3 separate regions of the Homo sapiens genome follow, and regions 2 and 3 are each linked to region 1. The links come from fine-mapping of genetic effects on gene expression. A gene starts in region 1. Each other region holds a variant in brackets. All regions are shown on one strand. Distances are between the middles of the regions.

Evidence for each region.
Region 2: its variant is fine-mapped to the expression of RNF19A in neural progenitor cells (Aygun 2021, PIP 0.95).
Region 3: its variant is fine-mapped to the expression of RNF19A in monocytes after LPS (Fairfax 2014, PIP 0.95). The same link has a PIP of 0.9 or more in monocytes after Pam3CSK4.

What each region holds. Positions count from the first base shown.
Region 1 is chr8:100,306,560-100,312,268 of GRCh38, forward strand. It overlaps RNF19A (ring finger protein 19A, RBR E3 ubiquitin protein ligase), which reads right to left and starts at 3,394. Exons shown (of 10, transcript NM_183419.4): 1 at 3,308-3,394. RefSeq lists silencers at 2,627-2,676, 2,947-2,996, 3,047-3,136, 3,497-3,886, 3,592-3,751.
Region 2 is chr8:100,500,592-100,506,300 of GRCh38, forward strand. It overlaps LOC124901992 (a long non-coding RNA gene), which reads left to right. Exons shown (of 2, transcript XR_007061032.1): 2 at 171-557. Among named protein-coding and RNA genes, the nearest start is that of ANKRD46, 56 kb to the right of the region's middle. RefSeq lists a silencer at 1,209-1,278 and an enhancer at 1,918-2,077. The variant T/G (reference allele first, on the strand shown) is at 2,214.
Region 3 is chr8:100,377,599-100,383,307 of GRCh38, forward strand. It overlaps MIR4471 (microRNA 4471), which reads left to right and starts at 5,165; the gene lies at 5,165-5,247. LOC124901991 (a long non-coding RNA gene) reads left to right here. Exons shown (of 2, transcript XR_007061030.1): 2 at 4,048-4,326. RefSeq lists an enhancer at 4,976-5,075. The variant T/C (reference allele first, on the strand shown) is at 2,742.

The sequences.
Region 1 (5,709 bases):
CCTTTATCAAGAAGTGTTACTTTTTCCACTTTGATATAGAAAGTATCACTGACATATGATAACTTTTGAGAAACAAATGAAGTACACAAGTTTTAAACACCCAAAGTGATTTCACTGCCTGTTTGGTTGAAGCCTACCACCATCTGAAATACAGGTATGTTCAGCAAGGAAATATTATCCCTTAGTCTTTAGCTGTGCAGGTACGGTTAAGTAAATGAGTTGTTTCAATGTTAGACATCTTCTATCTACTAACAGAGAACTGGCATGGCTTAAAAAAAGAAAATTCATAATTACTCCTAGTTGGAGAAAAAAAATTCCTAAGTAAAGAAAAATTTAGCTATTCTCCGTAAGTAGTAAGATGAATATTTTGATAAATAGCTTTTAAGCTGAAGTACTACTCCATATATAATCATGGGTCCTTTCAGACAATCTAAATTCAACTACCATTTTGCTATGATGTGCTAGTTTGCCAAATACAATGCAATATGCAATGAAATGTAAATTTAGAAATTCAACTTTACTTTGGGCTTTTGCCCAAGGTGGCCTAATTTTTATCTTGGCAAAGAATGTTAAAAGATCATAAGCTTATTAGTTCAGTACAAAACCAGCCTGCATTTGACAGTCAGTTTTCACTTATTAATGACATTAGAAAAACGAATAACAATTCCCTAAGATTTCCTATATAACCCGAGTAGAGAAGATATAAGTGAGCAATTCAGATGTAAATATTAATATAACAAAATTTATCTCCAGCTTACTCTGCGCCCAGCACTTGACTAGGGACTTTTACATGTTATCACAAATATTTTGCCTTCTTTTCCCTACTTGGAAATTACAGAAAACTACATATCTCAACCATCTGTGCCCTGTAGATTAAAAACGACAACAACAACAAACTATATGTGTTGGAGAAGGGGGAGAAATAATCTGAAACCAAAAAATTTCTATATAAATCTAAATAAGTGTTCAAGATACAAACTGCCGCAACAAAAAAAAAACCGTGGTGGGGAGGGGGTGTCAGAATCTTCCATAATATACAAGTGATTATTTCAAATAGTTAAAACAAAAAGTTTGCTTTTAATTACCCATATTTAATTCTAAACAACCCCATAACAAATAGTATCCTTCAATCCAACCCCAATAAAATAGAGGTGACCCAAGTGTCTTACATCCTCAACTGCAAACATACTGCTTTACGACTTCACTTACATTCAAATTTGGGAAGTGCATTTACTTTCCACCAAGATGCTAAGTATTTTATTTATTCATCCATTTTCTTGAATGAAGTATCTTTAAAAATAGGAATCTTAGCACCTCTCGTGTGTTAGGCAGAAAATAAGTTTCAGTCAAGCAAAATACATCAAAAACTCAAGAAATCACCAAAATTTGTTTAAAAATCCCAACACTGTCTGGTTGACAGTATGGACAGTTCTTTATATTAAGTCTACTGATCAACTGAGGCATCCCCTAAATGAGAAAACAAAATTTCCAGTGGCCACTATTTGGTACTAAGAATTGGGTTGTGCTTCAACTCCTAAAATGATGCTGCAGTTTTAAAAATTAATCTTACTGGAATCTCCTGGAAGCTAAGATAGTGAAAAAAATACACTAACATTAGTTGCCAACTGTAATTTTTTCCTCAAAGACACCTTGCGATGACATTAAAATATTTTCCATGGACACGTAAAATTTAAACTTCAGTTAAATTTTATACAGTAATTTAAAAAAAGAGAACATTAAGCAGGGCATTAAACTAACAAATTTTAAAAGTGTTTTTTTAGCATAATTTGGTTTATTAAGTCCCAAGACTTAATTCTAAATTTTTACCATGAAACTGTAACAAGGAAAGAACATTTGAAAATACGATCATCGCCATTTTCTAAATAGAGAAGTATTTACATTTTAACTCAATTCAGATAGTTCAGTCAGTGTTAAAGAAGCAAAAACAGGCAAACAGGGTAATGGCTTGCATTATAAACAGAAGTGGTAAAATGTGTATTAAGACGGGTAATGGCAAAACTGAAAATAAAACTTAAGGCAAACCGTCAGACTTCAAACAACCAAAACTCAATGAATCTAGGTTAAAATAAGAAAAGATATTTTAAAAAAATGAAAAGAACCATGTTCTTTAAAAAAAAAAAATGTGGAATGTAAAGATCACAATTTAAGACAACCGATCAAAGGAAAGGGCTGCTTTAAGCCTCTACTGTTTACTAACACTTAAAATTAGCATTTCTAGCCAACATCTAGGTTTGAAAATTGCAACGGCACTTAAACGCCGTCTTTTCTAACGTCACCCCAACAGAACATTCTGCAACACTGTGGACAGTAAACATTAAGCAGAGTAAAGCATCGTTCGTGTATTTATATCTCCAAGGGTCAATGGGAAAAAATTAAACGTTTCTCTCTCCCATATATAGCCTTAACCACTCTCTTCCCTCTTTTTATTTACTGCCCTTGTCGCGGGGTTAATGAACCCTAAACTTCTTTTTCTTCTTCCCATTAATGGAAATGGGAAAAAAAGAGCAACTGCAGAGTGGAACCCAGATAAGAAAAACTGAAAATTCAAAGTAGTAGTATTACTTGCCGGGCGAGGGCTGGGAACACCCTAAAGGCTTAGCACGGGGAGACAATCCCGGAAGACCCCCGTTAACACATACTTCACCCCAAGGCTACACCATTTTGGTGTGATGTGTAATTTTTGCTTTTGAAGGAGGTGGTAGCAGTCCCGGACTAACCTTCCTCCGAACACAGCTCCCCTCCCTAAGGCCCCAGGCAGCACGGCTTGCGGGGCGATGTCCCGGCTCCAAATTTGCAGCGAGGCCCGGAAATCGGTCCCGTTAGAGCCGATTTCACCCGTCAGGAATGCGTTCCGCCCCCGCCGCCTCCCCGCGGCAACCGCCCTTGGGTCTCCCCCGCTTTAGGGGCAGGAGACAGCTCGAGGGGAGCGCCGCCTCGGCCCGTCATAATATCGCCGGGCCGGCCGCCGGCCGCACAGGCACCAGGAGGACAGGGCTTGGGGCGGATCCCACGCTCCACCTCGGCCCCCGCGGCCCGGGAGACGCCCGCGCCTGGGCCGGGTAGGGGACCCGGAGCTGACCGAGGCCTGACCCCCTAAGCCGGCCACGGCCCCGAGCCCACGCTGGACACTGGAGGAGACGCCTTTCCCACCGGACTTCCGAATCCATTTCTGTCCCGGGCAGGGGCGCTAGGGCTGCGGCCCGGCCAGAGCTCCCTGGGTCGTAAGCGAGAGCCGCCCCTTCTCTCCCGCTCCGGGGCGCAAGCTCCTCCGGGTGCCCGCCCGTACCTTTAACTCCTCAGAGCGGCGGCAGCGCAGGGTGGCGGGCGAGTAGGCCCATCTCCCAGCAGCGGCGACAGCAGCCTGAGGAAGCGCGGGGGAGGGTCCCTCCGATGCGCCGAGGCGCCTCTCAACCGGGGCGGAGACGACGGAGGGGAGGAGTCCCGACGGCCGCTTTCCCGAACTCCTCCTCCGCAGTTGTGGCTCGACGGCTGCTCCCGGGAACCAGCGCCGCAACTACCACCTCCCCCTCCCGCAGCCCCCGCTTTCCCCTCCTCCTCCTCCCACTTCTTCCTCCCGCCCCCGGCCGCCCCGCCCCAGCGCGCCGCCCGCGTGCTGTGCGTCATGGCGTCACGCCCACCGGGCCCGCTGCGGGCGGCTCTGGACGCGGCTGTTCCCTTGCGCACGTTCGTTCCGCGCCCGCGCAGGAGCCGCCCCGCTGCACCCGGGTGGCCCCGACTGCGGCCCCCACGCCTGTCCCTGGCGGAGGGGACTTCGCCTCGAGCGCGCCGGGCAGTGGGGCCGGTGTCTCCCTGGCCGGTTCTCCGTGGCCCAGAGAGCGTCTCCTCCAAGGACAGGTCGGGGTGGCTGGAGCTGCGCCCGGTTGAAGGGAGTTGCCAGACTCGGCGACTCTGGCTCTTGGCAGTTTGCCCGGCATTATTCATTCCTTTGTGTTCTCAGGGTTCACCTGCTAGATTGGCAGGCCGAGGGAGAGAAGTGCCGGGATGTTGCAGCTCTCGGCGAGGAAATGTCCTTTCCCAGAGGACGGCAGCACCCTGTGCGTCTGCAGCCGCCCTCTTAGTGCACCTGTCTTTGCAGAGGCTGTTAGGAACAGTACTTAGCCACAATAGCAAGCCTACGTGAGGGTTTGGAGAGTATCTTCCATTCATCTCTTTTATTTCATTTTTTTTTTACTATTTTGCAGTCAAGTAATCAGAATTCCTATTTCATCTCTAATACATTCCTAATTACTTTAATCCAGCTTTATTTGTTCCTTCGTCTCATATCTTTTCAGCCAGTCATATCCCCTTTGAATGTTTCAATCTACACTAGTCTTGGTATTCTTAGTTGAATAAACAAATTCCGTCTGGGCCTGGTGCATTTCCTCCTGGTTTATTCTCTTCAAGATTTAGATCACTCTAACATAGAATACTGAGAAACGAATGTGATAGAGGCTGGACAGAATGTCCATTTGCCATCTGTTACTTAACTAAATATATCACTCTCCCAGTCCTTGTTTAGTGTGTCTGTGTAATTTAAATTAGAAACAAACCAAGGAGCCATGGTCTTTCCGAATGTACTTGGTATCTTTGGTAACCCAGTAAATGTTTACCAATTAGAAAATTGAACAAGCTAGGCAGTTTAGGTTTAAGTGTCTTTGGCCTCGAATCTTAAAGGAAGTAATTATGGGTATGTTTATTTTCATTTATGGGAAGTTTTAAAGCTGTTATACCTTTAAATGCTACTTGAAGGCTGCCAGCGACTTTACATATGGGATGCTTTAAGCCTACAGATAGCACAAGAATAGTAAGTTAAGTACCCATATATAATATCCTTCTTGAAAATATATCAATATGTTGGCCGGAATTGGTGGCTCACGCCTGTAATCCTAGCACTTTGGGAGGCCGAGGCGGGCGGATCACGAGGTCAGGAGATCGAGACCATCCTGGCTAACATAGTGAAACCCCGTCTCTACTAAAAATACAAAAAATTAGCTGGGCGTGGTGGCGGGCGCCTGTAGTCCCAGCTACTCGGGAGGCTGAGGCAGGAGGATGGCGTGAACCCGGGCGGCGGAGCTTGTAGTGAGCAGAGATCTCGCCACTGCACTCCAGCCTGGGCGACAGAGCGAGACTCCGTCTCAAAAAAAAAAAAAAAAAAAAAAGAAAAGAAAATAGATCAACATGTTAAACAACATTTCAGCACAGATGGGGCACTGGCTTGAAAGGGGATTTTGAATAAAGAAGCTGTGCGGAATGAAAATGGTCTTACACTCTGTACAACGGTAATATTTTCCAGAGATGCTGCTTCTGGCTTTCTTGTCTTCCTAAAAATTAGAAGGACTTTCTATTCTTCACTAGGCCAAATAAATCTATTAAAAAACAAATACCTATTGAACATCCCCAACTTGAATTCCTAGAGGCACCTCAGATTCAGGCTGTCCAAGATGTAGTTTGTTCTTTCCTCAAAGCATGCTTCTTTCATTCACCCAGACACAAGCCAGAAACCTAGGATTGTTCCCAGGCCCCATTCTTTTTGTCCCTTCCAATTCATAACTAACCACCAAGTCCTGTTTATTATACCCCGGAAATATCCCTGTGCTCTCTGTTCTATATCTCCCTCTGCTTTTAGAGCAGTGTTTTCAAATTTGGCTGCATATTCTTATGTCCACGTTGCACCCAACAATTAAATCA
Region 2 (5,709 bases), 190 kb after region 1:
AAGAAAAGTCATGGAAAATTGAGACTTTGGGCTGAGTGTGGCTCATCCCTGTAATCTTAGTGCTTTGGGAGGCTGAGGTAGGAGGATCGCTTGAGGCCAGGAATTTGAGGCCAGCCTGAGCAACATAGTGTCTCTTCAAAAAACTAAGTTTATTCTTTCCTCTTTTTTAGTTTTTATTTTACACGGCTCACTGTGGCTTTGACCTCCCATGCTGAAGCGATCCTCCTATCTCAACCTCTCAAGTAGCTGGAAGCACAGGCATGCACCACCACACCTGGCTAATTTTTTTCTTCCTTTTTTAAAGAGACAGTCTTGCCATGTTGCCCAGGCCCTGTTGACCAGGAAAAAAAAAAGTTTTTTTTCTTTTTTAAAGAAAGAAAATAAAAGAGACTGAGAAACCACAGAAATAAAGAAGCGCTGATGACAATGCCTGCTTGCTGATGGTTACGATGATCATAGCAGTGTGCATTTTGTATGCATGAAGCCTGCGACTAAATAAACGTGTGGGGAAATATTTGTAAGGAAATAAGCTATTAATAAAATAAGCTAAAATCACAGTTGCTGGACTATGACTGATTTTTCCCCTTTCTCTCATTTAAAATTAAATATTTGTATGACTTGTATAATAGAAAAATACATGTATTCAATCTTAAAAAGATATTCTTATTTTACACTTTACGGGACAAAAGAGGTTGTAGGTTGGAATGGTTCAGTCCCCTTGTGACAACTCAAAAACAGAGACCTTAAGCCTTTCTCAACCAATGTTGCGGGACAAGCAGGCGTGTGAGGCGACAATGCCATTAGGGTATTTTTTGGAAAAATTTTAGTGTGAGAGACAAAAGCCAAATTCAAACTGGCCTGAGCCAAAATAGGTAGGAAAGGGAGAAGCGGAGACAGGGAGGAAGAAAGAGAGAGAACAGAAAGAAAAAGGGAGAAATGTCGAAAGGCAAAATTACAACACATTTAGTTAAATGATTGAATTGGTTTTTATTTGTAATTCATGAATTGGGGCAGCATCTCCTCTAAAACTTTAGGAAAAGTGCTCTGATGAGCTAAACAGAGAAGCTTGGCTTTATAGGCAGAAAAGGGTGAAGAAAGCAGACACAGGGAACAAAAAGCAGATTGGTAAGCTCAGGTTACTTCAGGTTACTTTCCTTATAAAGGTTAAAGTAGAGGGGACTTCCTTATCATGCTGGCTACAACTGGCCTGTTTGGGGATTTGCATATTATCTCTCTCTGTCTTGAGTTCTGGGAAGGTCTGATGACTTAGTTTCAGTTTGGTGATATGGAACTTAGCATGAGTGACTCCATCTTGGTTTGGTCTACTGGGGCCTCCTGCAGGAGCTCAGCCCAAATCAGTGACCTCCTATAAATTTCATTTAATAGAAAAGGAAGGAAGGAAGGAAGGAAGGAAGGAAGGAAGGAAGGAAGGAAGGAAGGGAGGGAGGGAGGGAGGGAGGGAGGGAGGAAGGGAGGAAAGAAGGAAGGAAAGAAAGAAAGTTGCTTATAAGTTGCTTATAACTAAAAAGACCAGCTGGACCCAGGAGCTCTGAGGTTGCTTTCAGGCCTCTGTCCATCTCTTAGTTTTCCATCCTCAGACAGGCTCTGCCCTGCCTTACAGTCTAGCATTGTTGGCCAAAGGTGACTGACTGGCCCAGCTTGGGCTATATGTCCTTCCCTGTGGCCAGAGAGATGTGTCTCTGTGATGGCCAGGCTTGGGTCACGTACTCCCTCCCCTACCAGAATCACATGAAAAGAGGGAGGAAGAGCCGCTTTCCACCAAAGGAAACTGAAGTGCTATTGTCAGAGGGGTTGCTGGGCAGACCAAAAAGATGACAATATCTGCTCCAATCGCTCGGGTTGTTGGTGCTTGGCAGATTTGCCCCTACGTCACTTTTCAGATGTGGATAAGACTGAAGGTGACCACAGGCTTCCGAGAGGAAAGCTGCCAATGGGGGTGTGAGAGGAGGGGGAATTCTTACTCACCAAGGTTAACACTGTGCACACTGTTCTCCGAGGAAGTGGGAATTTCCACATGGTGAGTTCCCTTCCCTGTACAATGAATTACTATCTTGATGAGAAACCCGTGGGCAGCTGGTTGAGAAGAGAAAGGTATTCTCTGAATGAGAGGGAATTTACCACCTTCCTTTCAATGGTGACAGTTTTTTCTGGTGTCACCGCAGGGTGTGGATTGATTCATATACAAATATACA[T/G]ATCTACATAGATGCCATTCTGCTAGCCTCTGCAAAATGCATGCCTGGAGACCATTTCTGCTGCCTAGGAGATGTCAACTTTGTCACCACCACTCTCTCTCCACCACTCCCACACCCTGCAGGGGCCAGGTGTGTGGGTGGGGAGCTCCCCAGCTGGAGGCCAGATTAGAGGTCTCTGTGTGGTGGGGATGGGGAGGATGGGGTGGGAATGAGGTGGTAGGCCACTGGCAGTGGTCCAAGTTCCATCCAGGATCTGTCCTAGGCCTCTCCCCAGGCTGTCGCTTCCACCATTGAATTTCTAACCTGGATCTCTAAGGTTATGAATATCTCATTCCCGCATCCTGGGGTGCTCAGACATGTCTCCCCTGAGTCTCTAGCTGGGCTCGTGGCTGTGATCATTGTCCTCAGAGTTCCATCCTCCCAACAAAGGGACAGAAGAAACACAGGGCCCACTTTTCTGGATTCTGAGTTGGAGCCAAGAAATTCTATCTGCTGCTTCCTTCCTGTTGAATTATCCCCCAAGGACCCCTTAGTCCCTCCAGTCTCCTCCAGAGGCCTATAGCTGCCCCAGCTCCCCATGATGGATACCTGGCTCTTTCCTACCCAGAGGAAAACGCAGGCCCTTCCCCAGCCCTGCACTGAACTCCTGTGAGTGGCTGAGGAGATGAGGAGGTGTGAAGAGTGAGTGTGTTGGGGAGGGAGGGGTCCCCTGCCACCAGGTACCAAGGACTTCTGCCAGATCACCAGAACTGACACCTGGTTCCACCGGCCAGCTGTGAAGTGTCGGCCCTGACATCAACAGCTGACCTCCCACAGGGCCTAAGGAAACGGAATTGTGGGTAAATGAAACATTTTATTTATTTTATTTTGTTTTATTTTTATAAATTTTTGGGGAGACAGTTTTGCTATGTTGCCAAGGCTGGGCTTGATCTCCTGACCTTAAGTGATCCTCCTACCTTGGCCTCCTGTGCTGAGATTACAGGTGTGAATCACCATGCCTGGCCAAGAAGTGAATTTGTAAAAGACATGAGGAAAGGCCTGGTGGAAAGCTAACAGTGAAAAAAATTTTCAATACTTGCTATAGAAACTAAAGAAACTCACAATATTTTGCTCTCTATTGGATCATTTCCATCAACATACAAATAAATACCTGTTATTTTTTCCATCTTTAAAAAAATGCCTTCATTATAAGTGATTCAACAAATTAATAAACGAGAAGGGAAAAATCTTCTCTATAGAAGAATTCCAAATAGCATATGTAGATACTCTCCCCTCCAGGAAGCCGAGCTTAAATCCACTCTCTTTGAGAGTGGACTGGATTTAGTGACTCACTTCCAAAGAGTAGAGTATGGAAAGGGAAAATAGTAACTTTATAGGAAAGAAACCCAGCAGGTACCTTGTTAACCAAATGATGAAGGTTAACATCACCGCTGATAAGTCATGTTGCTATCATTCACCCGCTGATACGATCTCATGAGAAGGGCAATTCCCGACTGTGGTATTCTTCAAATCTATTGAGTTATAAGAAAACATGAGATAAACCCAAACTGAGGAACATTCTACAGAATACATGACCAGTATTCTTCAAAGCCCTTAAGGTCATGATAAACAAGGGAAGACTAAGAAGTGATCACAGATTGGGATGACTGAGACATGATGACAAAATGCAGAGTGATATCTTGGAACAGAAAAAAGACATTAGTGAGAAAATTCAAAAAACTCTGATTAGAGTTGATAGTTGGGCTATTAGTTTTATACCAATGTGAATTTCTTAGTTTTGACAAATATACGTGAGGGAAAGCTAGGCGAAGGGTATTCTGGAAATCTCTACCCTGTACTGTCTTTTCAACTTTTCTATGAATCTAAAGCTCTTCCAAAGATAAGTCTATTAAAAAAATAACAAAAACTTCCTCTAAAATTTAAAGACGGACAATATCAGGTGTTGATAAATCTGTGGAGAATTTGGAGCTCATACATTGCTGGTGAGAATGTGAAATTATGTAGTTATTTTGGAAAACAGTTCGGTAGTTCTTATAAAATGAAAGATACATCACTAAATGACCCAACGATTCTACTCCTTGATATCTACCCAGTAGGAAGGAAATGATGTCCGTACAAAGACTTGTATACAAATATTCATACCATTTTTCATCATAATGGCCCAAAACTAGAAACAACTCAAATGTCCATCAACAAGTAATGGGTAATCAAATTGCGGTATATATATACAATGAAATATAACTCAATATAAAGTAAGAAACTACTCATAGATACAGCAACATGGATATTTCTCAAGTATATGCTGAGCAAAAAAAGCCAGACACAGGAGCACATCCTATATGATTCAATTTATACGACATTTTAGAAAAGGCAAAACTAATCTCAGAGACAGAAAGCAGGTCTGTGGTTGCCTGGAGCTGCGGATTGGGGAGGGGATGATGGGAGAGATTGACAAAAGGAGCACAAGGAACCTTTTGGGGTGATGCTGGTAATATATATCTTGATTGTTGTGGTGGTTACATGGATGCATACATTTGTCAAAAATCATTAAACTGTATACTTCAAATTTATTATATGTAAATTATGCCTTAATAAAGTTGATTTTCTGAAAAGCTTTCTTTGATCCGTTTACCCTGCCAGCTCCCCTTTTGCAAGACTCCTGAAAGAGCTGCTGATACTCACTGTCTCCACTTCTACCCCATATGTTCTTTCTGAAGCCCACCCCAGCCAGGCTTCTATTCCCATCATGCCATGGAAACCATTCTCATCAAGGCGGCAGTGACCTCCGTGTTGCTAAATCCAATGGTTAGTTCCCATTTCCCAGTCACATTTCATTTGACCTGTCAGGAGCATTCCACACAGTTAACTCCTTTTTCTTCCTTTGGCTTCCAGGACACAGTAGTCTCTTGGTTTTCTGCCTACCTCTGATTACTCCTCCTCTGTCTTCTGTGCTGCTTCTCCTTACCTCTCCAACCCCTTCATGTCGGCTGCCTCAGGATTCCCCTTTCTGTGCTCCCTCCTCGGATGATTTCACCAAGTCCCAGGGCTGTAAATTCCGTCTATATGCTGAGAATTTCCAATATGATTGAGAAATTCTATCTCTAGCCCAGACCCTTCTCCCAAATTTTGACTCATAATTCCAAAGGCCTACTTGGCATTTCTCTTTGGTTGTTGAATAGACATCTCCAACCCAACGTGCCCCAAACCGAACTCCTGATCTTCTCCCTTAAACCTGTCCCTGCTGCAGCCTTTCCTGGGCTGGCATCTTGCAATTTGCTCAAATAAAAAAACTAGGAGTCATCCTTGACTACCCTTTCTCAGGCTCCACTAGCTCTACCTTCAAAATACATCCACAATCCATTGATCTTTCGGCATCTTCACTGCTACTACATTCAAAATCACATAGCAATTCTTCATTTTTCCCAAAATTAAAGCCAGTGCCCTGGCAATGGTCTGCAAGGCCCTAAATGATCTGCTTTCTCCTTCCCGACACCTT
Region 3 (5,709 bases), 71 kb after region 1:
TGTGAGGAAGAAAGAATGAGTAAGGAGAAGTTACAAAACATTTTTAATAGGGTAGGTGAGAGATCATACTATAGAATATAATTTTATTTTTTGTATTACTGAGGATGAGTTTGTCTGCAAGTAATGGAAAACATCCCAAAGAGAAGCCTACACAAAATATGGCATTATTTCTGTCTCATGTGAAGGACTGGCATGGCAGATTTGCCAGGTCCCCCACCCCACTACCCCACCGCCATCCTTAGGAGAGCCTGCTTCCCATGTCCCGGGAGGCCATATCAGCAAGATGGAAGAGAGCAAAGAGCAGACACAGGGTGTCTTTAAAGGAAGGTTCCCAGAAACTTCCATGTGATACTTCTGCCCCCATGTCATTAGTCAGAAGGTAGCAACAGGTCAGGTGCGGTGGCTCATGCCTGTAATCCCAGCAGTTTGGGAGGCCAAGGCAGGCGGATCACTTGAGGTCAGGAGTTTGAGAGCAGCTTAGCCAATATGGTGAAACGCTGTCTCTACTAAAAATATAAAAATTAGCTGGGCATGGTGGTGCACGCCTATAATTCCAGCTACTTGGGAGGCTGAGACATGAGAATTGCTTGAACCCAGGAGCTGGAGGTTGCAGTGAGCCAAGATTGTGCCACTGTACTTCAGCCTGGGTGGCAGAGTGAGACTCTGTCTCAAAAAAAAAAAAAAAAAAAGAAGAAGTAGTTAGCAATAGGGCCACACCTAGCTAGCAAGGGAATCTGGAAAATGAGATTTGCTGTCTGGATTTCCACATTCCCAGCTGATAAACCAGGGATTCTGCTATGAGGGAGAAAGGAAGAATGGATATAAGGGATTTGCTGGCATTTTCTGCCATAATGTTATAAAAATCAAAGAAACAAAGATAAGAGACTATAATTTCATAATCACTGAAAATTATTCTTTGGATCTTAATGAAAAGAAAATTTTAAGTGAAGGTTGTTTCCTAGAATCTTGCCTTAAAGCTGATTACCCTTGAGACAAAATAATCCCTCACTCCCAGATAACACTGGATTTGACTCAAGTGGCCAAGGCTATCCAAGGCGGTGAGAGGGTCAGTTTGTCCAGGTCTTCATGACCCTGCCTTAGTAATCCTCTCTGAGTTGTTTCAATAGGAAAGTAAATTCCATTATCATCAAGCATTGCTAAATTCAGGGAATTGTAAACCAACAATGTGTAAGCATTGTGAAAGCTCTGTCCTTAACAGAAGTCCAGCTTTGCAGTAATGTCCACACTCCATTTCCTTGGCTCTGAAGTCAAGCAGCCAGCTTCCTTGGTGCACATCTCATCATAGGCAGCCTGGTGCATCTCTCTCCTCTACTTTCTTCCCTGACCGCCACTGCCTGCAGAATCTTCTTAAGGCACGATTGACAACATCTGACTGTGCTCCACATGTTCTCATGGTTCTCAAATGCTCACTACCTTAAAACAACTCCTTGGCCTGGCCTCCCAGATCCTCCAAAATCTTACCCACCCTCCCAATTCAACCAGATGTTCCTCTGAGATATGGCGATTGCATTCTGGGATTTTGGGGAAAATGGGAAGGCATTTTGTACTCTTCCTCCTTCACTCTGTGCCCTTTGCCTCTTGTTGCTATCACTAGTTGATTGGTGGTCCATTCACTTAAGTGACATATGGAGCTTTGTGCTTAACATAGAGATGGATTTCCAACTGGAATGCTAAGAACCCCAGAGAAGAAACATGCCTGTGTTTAAATGTATGAAATTATATTTATAATGATAAGTATATACTCACTACTAGCATGAGGAAATAAATCAATGTCCCAACCAGAAAAATTTAAAATTTTAAGTATAAACAAACCATTATTTCTTTCTTAACTTTATTAAGGATAAAGCTATCTTGATTCTGTCTTATTCCAATTGATTCTCACTTATTTTAATCCAGGAAGGCTTTGGGATTTGATTGTCATGTTCTCACTGCTCTTCCATTGCTGTTATGATTCATAACCCACTCATTCATTCATTTATTCAACAAATACTTATTCAGTGTCACTTATGGGTTGCTGAAGATACGTTAGAAAATGTTCCAGCTTTCATGGCATTTACATTCTAGAGCAGTGGGTCTTATCCACAGACGATTTTGTCACCCCTGGGGGCTGGGGGGAAATGTGGCAATTTCTGGAGATAGTTTTGATTTTCATGAGTTGGGGAGGGGCATTACTGTCATCTAGATGGTAGAGTCCTGTGATGCTGTCAATGTAGCCCCACTTTTCCACACCCCATACTGGAGCACTGTATCCCCACCCCCACACCTCAGAACTTGATATAAGCTGCTCCTGTCCTTCACCGGGTTCACAGTTAAGATGATTATCACATGATAGGCACCAAGACGCCAGGTGTCTATTCCACCTGTTCTTCAAGAGCATCCACTTCCCCAAGGGCCTCTCTGTTCCTTCTCCTGTCCCTTTGTCCCTTGGTGGTGGGGACACTGGCCTTATTTAGTGTCTGTTCTGCTCTCTATCTCAGCACCAAGTGGCCAGACATCTCCATTATGGTGTAGCCTCTCCATTGTCCTCTTACGTCTTCTTATGTGCACCCTCTGTCCACACAGGGCCCTGCTACCCATCTTGAATCTCTGTCAGACCCATATCCTGTTGCTGGGCCCTACCCCTGCTCCTCTTTGCCCTGTTTTAGACAGAAATCCAGGAATGACCCTGATTCTGCCCATTAGTCTCACTACCTCTTTCCCATATGACTCGACAGCTTACC[T/C]CTGGGAGGAAGTAGACTTCCAAGCAAGTCCCTTCCTCTGGGGACTGCAGCTCAGGTTCCGGTTTCTTAGCTCCTCTTGGCTTCTTGCTCTTTGTTGCCCCCCTACCCCTGGCCCTTACACTTAAAATGTGTTTTAGGCCTTCAAGCTTAGTCTATAAACCTGGTTATTTTATTTGTAAATATAGTGATTTTTATATAAAAATGAGAACAATTGCTTTTCTTGTTTGATTAGTGTTCAATCAACTTACAAACTTAAAAACATTAAATTTCTTCAAACTGACCATCTTTATACATGTAAAAAGATTTCCTAAAATATTTTTAACTATCTTTACAAATTTAATAACTTTGACTTTCTCAAACACTTCAAATGCCTGATGGGGCAACATTTACAAACAAAGCAAGAAAAATCCTTCAATATCTCAATGAACTCTTGTAATAATACTAGTTTATACATGTAGTAAATTAGATTCTTCTGAATATTCAAACACTTTTAAAGAACATATTCAATTATTCTGCAACTTTCAAGTGAAAATTACAAATTGAGTATTAGTTTATCATTCCAAAATAAAATCGTAAGGCTAATATGTCAGATTATCTTAATCATTTTAAGCTGCTTAAATAACAAAAACAAGCTGATTGCAATGATTACAAAACTTACTCCTAAAGCTTAACACAAAGTATTGATACTATGAGTTTGATTGGCTTCAACGTCCATTTTCTACACCTTTTCCATTGAAACAAAGTTATTTTTACAAGTCAAGGGGAGCAAGAAGGTATTTCATGCAGGCTGGAGTTATTTGTATAACTGAGATACTGATGATCAGTTAGATTGTAAAACTGGGAGTTTTTCCAGGATGGTTTTATCCGAGCAACAGATTAAACACACTGAGCTTCCTTTTATAGTTGGCTTGGTTCTGCCTACTGTGTCACCAGGGAAGGAGTGTGCTATGTGTCCCCAGAGCATTTTTCAAATTTCACCCTCATCCTATTTTTATCATAACTTCTTTCACAATTTAACACATAATTTGGGTAGGTAGAATTCTGCAGACTACCTTGGCATGTAGTCTATCTTTTTGTTAACTGAATTTTCTCTCCCTCCTCAGGTTGTAAAATTCTTTTTCTTTTGCCTTCTTATCTGTTTCATTGTTGCAGAGATTGACTAAGTCTTCATCAAATCTGTTTTTCTTTGCTTCTTGGGCACAGAGCTAGACTCCATTTCCCAGCTTCCCTTGCAGTGAGTGTGGCCATGTGACTGAATTTGGGCCAATGAAATATGAGTGGCCTGACCCCCTATCCTCTTTTGCAGGCTTGATGCAGGGCAGCAGGGCAATCTTGGAAGCTCCATATTGAAGATGGTGGAGGCACAGTTTGAAAGGAGTCTGGGTTGGAGGAGAGCTACAGGCAGATCAGGAACACCCATCTTGGATTTGACCTGAGTGAAAAATAAACTGCAATCATTATGTTAAAACACTTACATATTTGGGGGGATTTTTTGTTTATCTTGTGAAAATGCTCATTAACCTCTATTGTCATAATAAAAATCCTTAAAGTTGGTGCTAAAAATAAATGCAATTTTGAAAATTCATGTGATGTTAGTTACTACTGCATATCCTGAGTCAACGCTAGAAAACATCAAGTGAAGCAGAGGGTGTATTATGGGACAGAGTCACTCTTGGATGTTACATAAAAATCTGACTGAATTAACTCAATCTTTTTTAATAGGAACTAATGTCATGTGACTTGTGTACCTTTTTAAATAACTTTTTTAAAAAGCAACCAAGAAAACAAAAATAAGCAGCCCATTGACAATTAAATCACCTACAATATTCATGAGATTAAAATAAACCTGTTGCTCAGTTACAAATATTTGGGCTCCCATGAGCAGACAGAAATTTTCCCCCAAGGGTCCTAATAAACAGGAAATTACATGATACAATAGACTCATATCCTTAGTAGACAAAACAATGTCAACTACCCAGACTCTCCTAAAGAAACCACACACACATGTTCAAGGGAGTAATTAAAAAAATTTAAAAACATAGGTTTCTTTTTTCTTCTAAAAAGTATACTTTTCTTTAAAATGGTAAGGGTGTATTAGTGCGATGAAGATCAATAAGGCCTCCATTTTTTTTTCTAGTTTGGTTATTTCACACTCTGCTTTTGGCATTTGAGGTTGCTAAGGTTATGGGTTTCTAAAAGTATTGTCCTTATGCACAAACGGACCTGTCATCAAACAGCTTTTGACCCTATGCAGTCAGAGTTTCCCTTTCCTTCTCCCACACCAACTAATTCTGCCATGTGTGGGTTGCAAGTGCACCAGGCAACAGTTTAATCTAAATGAAGTGATCACACATTAGATTTTGAAAATGAAACTTACTCATAAATATATTTCTTTCAAAATGAATTTTGTAAATCTTTTCCTTCCAAATTTAAAACTTAAACCTCTACTAAGTTTCCATGAAAAGAACCCATGGGAACTTAGTAGAGGTTTAAGTTTTAAATTTGAAGGGAAAAGAGTTATAAAATTCATTTTGAAAGAAATATATTTATGAGTAAGTTTCATTTTCAAAATCTAATGGTGCATGCCTGTAATCCCAGCTACTCAGGAGGCTGAGGCAGGAGAATTGCTTGAACCTGGGAGGTGGAGGTTGCAGTGAGCCGAGATCACGCCACTGCACTCCAGCCTGGGAGACAGAGTGAGACTCCATCTCAGAAAAAAAAATAAAAATGAAAAACCATGGGAACAATAAATACAGACTTTAGGCAGTGCTGAAATATACGGGAGAGAGACAAAGAGGACATGGTGGATATTTAGGTAGACGTATTAGAGTAAATACTAGTAAAGCAAAATTCTTTCCATGAACTATATCTGTTAGCAAAACTCTGACTAAAAGTAAATTCCACAAATAGGGGTTTATGTTTCTCAAACAACATGAAGGTTAAAAGTACAACAATGGTGCTGATTCAT